3 separate regions of the Homo sapiens genome follow, and regions 2 and 3 are each linked to region 1. The links come from fine-mapping of genetic effects on gene expression. A gene starts in region 1. Each other region holds a variant in brackets. All regions are shown on one strand. Distances are from middle to middle. Region 1 holds the start of TLR4 (toll like receptor 4). Region 2 has its middle 26 kb from the start of TLR4. Region 3 has its middle 25 kb from the start of TLR4.

Evidence for each region.
Region 2: its variant is fine-mapped to the expression of TLR4 in whole blood (TOPMed, PIP above 0.99).
Region 3: its variant is fine-mapped to the expression of TLR4 in atrial appendage (GTEx, PIP 0.96).

The regions. Positions count from the first base shown.
Region 1 is chr9:117,703,135-117,705,900 of GRCh38, forward strand. TLR4 (toll like receptor 4) reads left to right here and starts at 1,269. Exons shown (of 3, transcript NM_138554.5): 1 at 1,269-1,431. The coding sequence starts at 1,339. RefSeq lists enhancers at 691-1,890, 838-1,338, 1,239-1,288, 1,299-1,368, 1,339-1,839 and 1 more.
Region 2 is chr9:117,728,658-117,731,423 of GRCh38, forward strand. No RefSeq gene overlaps it. Among named protein-coding and RNA genes, the nearest start is that of TLR4, 26 kb to the left of the region's middle. The variant A/G (reference allele first, on the strand shown) is at 1,697.
Region 3 is chr9:117,678,036-117,680,801 of GRCh38, forward strand. No RefSeq gene overlaps it. Among named protein-coding and RNA genes, the nearest start is that of TLR4, 25 kb to the right of the region's middle. The variant C/T (reference allele first, on the strand shown) is at 1,633.

The sequences.
Region 1 (2,766 bases):
GATAAGCAAAATGTGGTCTATACATACAATGGAATATTGTTCAGCTTTAAAAAGGAAGGAGGCTTTGATCTATACTACACAGAAAAGAACCTTGAGGACATTATGCAAAGTGAAATAAGCCAGTGACAAAAAGATACATACTGTATGATTCCACTTCTAAGAGCTGCCTAGAGTAGTCAAGATTATAGAGACAAAAGTAGTGCATAGATTCAAGGGCCTAGGGAAAGGGGAAATGGGGAGTTATTTATTAATGAATAGTGGTGATGATTGTACAAAAATATGAACATAATTAATGCCACTAAATTGTACACATACAAATGGTCAAGATAATAAATTTTATGTTATGTCATGTTATGTTATGTGATTTTACCATAATACAGAAAATGAAAAAAGAAAAGAAAGAAAGTAAAGCTTAGCGGTTTACATGACTTGACCAATGCCTCAAAGCCATGAGTCACCCAGCTGAGATCTGAACTTCAGTATATTCCATTCTGAAATCCCAGACTTTTCCCAATCTTCTTGTACTTTTCAAACTGTGTTTCAGTTGAGGTTTATTTTCAGTTTTGTATGTGAGTTTCTTCACAAGAAGGGGCGGGCCAAATTGTGTCCTGCAAAAACCTACATATCGAAGTCCTAACCCCTCTACCTCAGACTATGACTGTATATGGAGAGAGAGCCTTGAAAGAGGTATGTAAGGTAGAATGAGGTCATTATGGTGGGCCCTAATCCAACATAACTGGTGTCCTTATAAGAAGGGGAGATTAGAATTCAGACACACTTGCTGACACCTTGAGTTCAGACTGGAAGCCTCTAGAATTGTGAGAAAATGAATGTCTGTTGTTTAAGCCACCCAGTCTGTGGTATTTCCTTATGGCAGCCCCAGCAAACTAATACAAATAGTGTTTCCACAGCTGAAACAAAATTGGAAAATCACCGTCATCCTAGAGAGTTACAAGGGCTATTTTAATAGAACCTGATTGTTTTCCTAAATTCACCAAGCCCAGGCAGAGGTCAGATGACTAATTGGGATAAAAGCCAACTAGCTTCCTCTTGCTGTTTCTTTAGCCACTGGTCTGCAGGCGTTTTCTTCTTCTAACTTCCTCTCCTGTGACAAAAGAGATAACTATTAGAGAAACAAAAGTCCAGAATGCTAAGGTTGCCGCTTTCACTTCCTCTCACCCTTTAGCCCAGAACTGCTTTGAATACACCAATTGCTGTGGGGCGGCTCGAGGAAGAGAAGACACCAGTGCCTCAGAAACTGCTCGGTCAGACGGTGATAGCGAGCCACGCATTCACAGGGCCACTGCTGCTCACAGAAGCAGTGAGGATGATGCCAGGATGATGTCTGCCTCGCGCCTGGCTGGGACTCTGATCCCAGCCATGGCCTTCCTCTCCTGCGTGAGACCAGAAAGCTGGGAGCCCTGCGTGGAGGTATGTGGCTGGAGTCAGCTCCTCTGAACTTTCCCTCACTTCTGCCCAGAACTTCTCACTGTGTGCCCTGGTTTGTTTATTTTTGCAAAAAAAAAAAAGAGTTAAATTACCTTAAAGACTCAAGAAGCCACAGAGATCAAATAATTCATTGTTACAGGGCACTAGAGGCAGCCATTGGGGGTTTGTTCCATTTGGAAATTTTGAGTGCTAACAGGGGCATGAGATAACATAGATCTGCTTAAGGTCCCTGCTCTGCTACCTTGTGGCTCTGTGAAGAAATTATCAAACCTGTCTGAGACTAGTTTTCGCATCTGTAAGAGAATTATAATACCTTCTTCACTAGAGAGTAAGCAGACTGCTTCAGTGTCATTTCTTCCCACTGGTGGTCTTTACACTCAGCTTCAAGCAGTCACCCTGCTCCTTTCAATCTCAGGAAAAAGATGGCTTTTGTGTGTGTGTCTCTAGAGAAAGAACTTTCTAAGTGGGTGTCAGACTTCTGTATGCAGTAATATAGTTTAGTCCAGAGGATGAAAAAAATAAGAGAATGAAAAAGGAAAAGAGAGAGAGAGAGAAGAAAAAAGCAAGAGGGAAATATGTATAATGTCAGCTAATGCAACAGTTTCTTTCTTAGTGAAATACCAATCAGCTGGTTGGTAATCTTATTCATGATGGATCTCTTTTGTTTTTCCCCTGCGCAGACTTCACAGTTGCTTTAGAAACCCATAGTAGAGCCGAACAGCTAAGAAAATGATTTACAGTGAGGCAGGGTCAGAAACTCAAGAGAGAAAAAGCCAGCTGCAGTCCTGAAGTTGAGGATATAGGAGAAAATCAAGTAATATTTAGCAAAGACTAATTCATTATCTTGAAGCCATCCCTTCCCTCAATTCCCTGCCCATAGTCCTCCTCCTTGTCCTCTTCTCTGTATCCCTCTGCTGTTAGGTTAATGGAGATAGATTTTCTAATTAGGCTCACTGCGAGATAAAACCACAGCCAAACTTGACTTCTTTTCCCCATGTACCTTTTCCTGTCAGTCCCTGAAGCCTGTCCATCCCTGCCCATCCCCTTAGTTCCACTGTAAGGCAGGCCCTCATTTCCCCTGGCATTGACTCTTACACACTAACTGCTTTCCTGATTCCAGTCTTCTTCCTTTAATTCATTCTGCACGTTCTTGTTTGTTATGTACTTGCATTTGTTGTTATTATTTTTCCTTAGGCTTCAATCTAACAAATTACTCTCCTTAAAAACTTTTAATAACTCTCCATTGCCATTAGAACAGCTTTCTACCACAGGGCCTTTGCACTGGCTATTTCTTCTACCTAGAATGCTAGATCAGTG
Region 2 (2,766 bases), 26 kb after region 1:
CATTGGCAATATTGCCCTCCTCTTTTTAAAATAAAAAAATGTTAAAATTGGGGAAATATATACTGTGTGGCCACCATGACCCTGTTCCAGCAGGGACAAAAACAATGGGAAAAAAAAGCATGATTCTTAATCTCTTGGTAGGAGTTGATGATTTAGGTGACAGAGGGACAGACATGTAAACAAGTGGCTATATTGTAGTGTGACATACATGAGGTAAAGATTAGTGATTTGGGGTTTGGTGACAGACAGACCTAAATCACTGATCTACCACATAGAAGCTGTGTGACCTGGGGCAGGTTACGCTACTTAACCCTTCTGTTCCTAAGTTTCATCATCTAGTCTGGTACATTGAGGATACTGCAGATGTTTGCCTCAGAGAATTATAATGGGATAAAATACATTAATATGATGAATAGAAATTAATTGGCACACCATCATATAGTAAGCACTTAAATTTGTGATACCTATTATTACAATTGTTTTTAATAGTAAAAATAAAGGTGAGATAAAGAAGAAAAAAATTAGAAGGACAGCAGCAGGGAAGACCCAGAAGGGCCTGGAATGTCTCTTAAGGTGTTTAGAAATACTGAAGTTCTTTATTCTAGGGAGGGAAAAGATCGGAAATGAGATGTAACTCTGTTACTCAGGGGATGGTGTGGTGGGTGGATTGAAACGGAAAAGACTGGCCCTAGGAACCCATCAAAAGAACGTGGAGACTTTACCCTCAATTGCTTTGATGAATGTCAAAGAGATTCCTGATCTTGTTAGAAAATGAACTCAAAAATCACGAGACATAGATACTATAGCCCTTTTTAGCTCTGTCCCACAAAGCATGGAGTGGGACTTTCAGGGCCAGAAACACAATCTGTTCTTTTAGAGAGTTGGTAGCAACTGTGATGTCTCCTGTGGCCTGACCCAACAACTTGGGCTCCACTCATTTATCTCAATAGCTCAGGCAATAGATATATATAGAACAGTGGTGACAACAGGCAGAAGGTAATTTAATTTGAGCAAAAGCCTCAAGTGGAAGAGACAGGAGGAGGTCCTTCTGAATGGAAATGCCTAACATGTACGACTTTGGTTTTTTTTTTTTTTTTTTTTTTTTTTTTTTTTTTGTATCCCCTAGCAAAGGCTCAGTCTCATCACGTATCAGGTTGTATTTGACCAAACACCAGAGGGAAAAGAGAAACAATCTAGGCCCGTGGTTATGAAAGGAAAAACGAACCTCTTCTGAAAAAAGAAAAAAAATACATGCGTCTTAGTCCCTTGGTAGGTTTGAAAGAGGAGAATAAGATTATCGGTAATTCTCATGCTATCATTTACTTCCTATGAGCTGACAAGTCATTCTCTCCTAGATCCCCTAAACTCGCCCCAGAATATATTAGCCAGAGGACAAGGGGACAGGCTCACTTAGACTGTAATTGTGTGTGTGTGTGTGTGTGTGTATGTGTGTGTGTTTCTCTCCTTCTATTTTTTATCTAGATACCCCCTTTGCTTCCTCTGCAAATGGCTACTCTGTCACCATTTCCCTTTTTTTAAAAAAATCTGCAGTTTAATTACATGTCTTTCTGTTCCTGATATGTAGAGACAAGCCAGTCTGGGTGCAAATCCTAATTTTTACCACTTCTTGCATGAATAGCTTTAAGAAAGTCATATAACTGTTGTCATCCTCAGTTTGTTAGCATGCCAAATGGGG[A/G]TAAAGATGCTTACTTTCTTAGATTAGGATGGAGAGGGAGTTAGATAGTGGAGGCAGACCACTGGCACACAGTAGGGGCTTAATAAATGCTATTTCCCCACTCTGTGACTGCATGGCCCCAACTGCCCTCGTGGCCTTCAAATCCTCCCACCATACTGTGCCCATTGGCTTCTCCCTGTGTGCATAGACCATGCAAGGGAGGTTTCTTACCTCCCGTATTCTCCCCTTTAATCCATCCACCACACCATCCATGAGTGACAGATGTAAAAACTCATTTCTGATCTCATCCCTTGCTAAGATAAGGAGCTTCAACATTTCCCAACACCTAATTTCTATCTCCTTAAGCCCTTTCTATCCTTCAAAGTCCAGCTAAAACTTCATTTCTTCTGGAAGCCTTCTCTGATCAGATCATCAACCAGTGTTTGCTAGTGCACTGAATTCCAGTAGGATTTCGGGCCCATAGGGGTCCCTTGGATATTCCCAAGCACTCACAGAATGCCAGGCTGTGTGCTGGCATATGCCCTCCATAGACTCTACTTGACCCCGAGCGGAGTGGTAGATGGACATTACAGGGCATAAACAGGTGTGGAGTTAGCCTAAGCCTGAGTTTTCAGGGGAGCCAGACCTAACCAATGCTGAATGAACTTCCTTGGGAGGCAGTGACTTCCCAAACTGTGACCAGCCTTGATGGTCAGGGGCCCCCAATTCTGGGGCAAGGAGCTAGTTCAAGAGAAACATCCAGGGGTGGGGGCTGGGCCTGCAATTGGATAGGTAATAATTTTATCTTTGGTTGACACAGATAGAACTGAGATGTAGTTAAGTGGTCAGCAAACCTAACTAATAACCAAAATCTCCTGGAGAGGGTGCTTTGAAAAAAGAGACAGGTTCATGGACCCCAACCTTGAAGGACTTAATGAAACCCTTCTAAGTTATGAAGAGGAAGTGCATAATTTTTGGAATTCCCTGGGTGATTTGATCATTAAGCAGATTTGAGAAGCACTGATAAAGCCAATTCACCTTGTTTCACAGGAAGGAAACTGATATCTCCACTATGTATTTTCTGTCGTCTC
Region 3 (2,766 bases), 25 kb before region 1:
TAATACAACATTTACAAGTTGAATTTTTATAACACAAGCTGTGAATACATTTTCATTTCTACTTCATTATGTTAAAATGTGTAAAGTAATTAAAACAGTGCCTCAAACTAAATAATGCTATGAGTGTTTGCTACAATGATGGATAATGATGGTGTTGATGATGATGTCAAAGTTGTAGGGCATATTGCTCTTTGTATATTTCATTTCTCCTGAATTAACTCAGCAACAGGTTATGTAAGATAACCCAGAATCCTTATACCCTAGTGAAGGCACAATACCTTTCTTCAGGTTGCAGGTCCCAGGATCAAAAGACAAAAAGTAATATCTTCTGGTAGTACCAGACATTTTTAGTAACAGGATTTTTCTCTAAAGAATTAAAAATAAGCTACAAAGAGGTTTTGGGATTTAATGAGAAATGTGCAAGAAAGATTTGTTTCTTTTCCACCCACATTCAGTTTTAACTGCCAAGTATATATTGTGGTTGGGAATACTTTCTACATAAAGGGACAAAGTTTAGGAGAGAAATTGGTCCTTAAAATATTGGCAAAAATATGGCTAGGAATGACCCAATCTGGGAAGGGTTCATTATGTGCAGCTACATAACAGATAATCTTCTAATTAATTTATTCAAGCAAGGTAATATCTTAAAAAAGTTGTGCAAATCTTAAAAATATTCAAATTAAGTAGTTAATGTCAAAAATATTTAGCCAAATATTTTTGTTCCTGAGTGATCCACACATAGCAAGAAAAGAAAATACTTTTTTTTTAAAAAAGCAAATAACTAAATATCAAGTAACTGATAGCACTAGGGGAAAAAACAGAATTCTTGGGATAGCAAGGGATCTATTCATCATATTCCCTTTCTATTTGGAATACTAAAGGAGAATTTGTTTGGAAAAAGAATACCTTTCCAACTCCCTATTGTCATAGTTTGGGATTAAAGCCAGTACGGTCTGTTCTTTATGAATGTGTCTAATCATAAAAGTATCCCAGAATCTGAGAATGTTTGCACTAGCAGCCCTTGATGACCAACCTGAGACAATGAGGTGAGAGAGTTTATGTTACTTTCTCAAGTTCACTGTTAGTGGGTAACCTGGCAGGGACAAATGACTCAGATCTTTTTATGCTAAGTCCAGGGTTCAGTTTATATGGTTTTGTCTCTCAACTGCTTATCTTTGAGAAGAATTAGCTTATGTTATTGTTTTCCTTGTCAGCAGAATGGAAGCATTGGATTAGATCAGTGGCTTTGCCGAGATTTTCCCTTCCACTTGGTTACTAAGATCCACTTCTTTAGAATCATTCTTCATAGGAAAAAAATGTTTCTTCTCCATTTTTGATTACTTTGTGCAGCAATTTCAAAGACTTACCAATCAAAGAAATCAAGGAAGGTATTGGATAGGAAAACTTTTGAGGGTTCCACATATAGCAGTTTCAACAATAATCAGATGTATTTCCTACTGGTCCTTTTTGCATTCAAGAATGATTATTTTTCTGAAAGAAAAAATTTGTTCTGAAATTTCTCAGAGAGCTGAGCTTTGGAAGGCATTCCATTTAGGAAGATGGAGTCATATCCTTCCTGTTGCATTTAGATAAATGTGGCTAATAGACAACTTTTTAACACATGCTTTCTGG[C/T]ACGTAAATCAGCACTTCCAGGTTTGAATCTCAGGGATTCGTACTTTCAATTGTTGCCAAATATTCAACATTTGGCTCTCTTGATCTTTAGTATTAAACTTTTTTTGACTCCATCTTCTTTCTTTCAGCCACTGTTTTCATTATCTAAAAACAGACACTTAAAGAAATTAGTGATAATCAGTCTTTTCATAAAGCTGAAAAAGGCCTGAGATATTGTTTGGTTTCACTTTCAAGAGTGGTTAAATAACTGCTCAAGACTTCCATATGAATAATTTCTCCATTTGCAAGTTTTTATCTTTAACTTCTTCTTGGTTTTCTCAATGCCACAAAACCTTCTTAGTGACAGGTATTGGGAAAGACAAACTCTTTAGGCCTTCCTTCTTCCTTTGAGGACCAAAGACCATTTCACTTTTAATCATTTTATATATTGTCTCAACACTGCCTGCCTCTTTATTAACCACCTCTGTGAAATCTATTGCTATTAATCATCAAACACATGTCTGAGTATTACTGGCAATTATCTCTGAATGCTTGTTACCTGTTGGTTTTATTACTTGTTTTCTCCTAGAAGAATAGATTGTTTCAGGTCCATAACTCTGTTTTATGTGTATGCATTTGTGTGTATGTTTATATTATTAAATGTAATATACATTACATTTTAATTTATATTTTAAATTTAATTATATATTAAAAGTAATGGCAAAACTGCAATTACTTTTGCACCAACCTAATATTCTTACATTTTAAAATTTTTCTTTTAGATCTCAACTATCATTGCATGAGGTAAAACAATATTTCAACCAAGGATTACTAACACTTTGTTGCCTATGAACGTACATTCTTCCTGTTGCGTATGAAGGCAGAAAGTCAGTTACAATCTATGATTCCCCTCCATTTCATGTTATATCTACTGCAACAATTTTTTGAAGTCTTCCATAAGCTCCTTGATTTTATTCCTCCAGAAATAAGAAGAATGTGCATCTTGGAGTTTGTTTTATTTTAATTTATTAGATACTTGGGGAAATCAGAAATGAAAGAAGCAAAAATATGTAATCATTACTTTTTCAGTCTGTTTTTCTTTTCTTTTCTTTTTTTCACCCTTTAGACACTAGAGATAACTTGTTCACTCTCTAT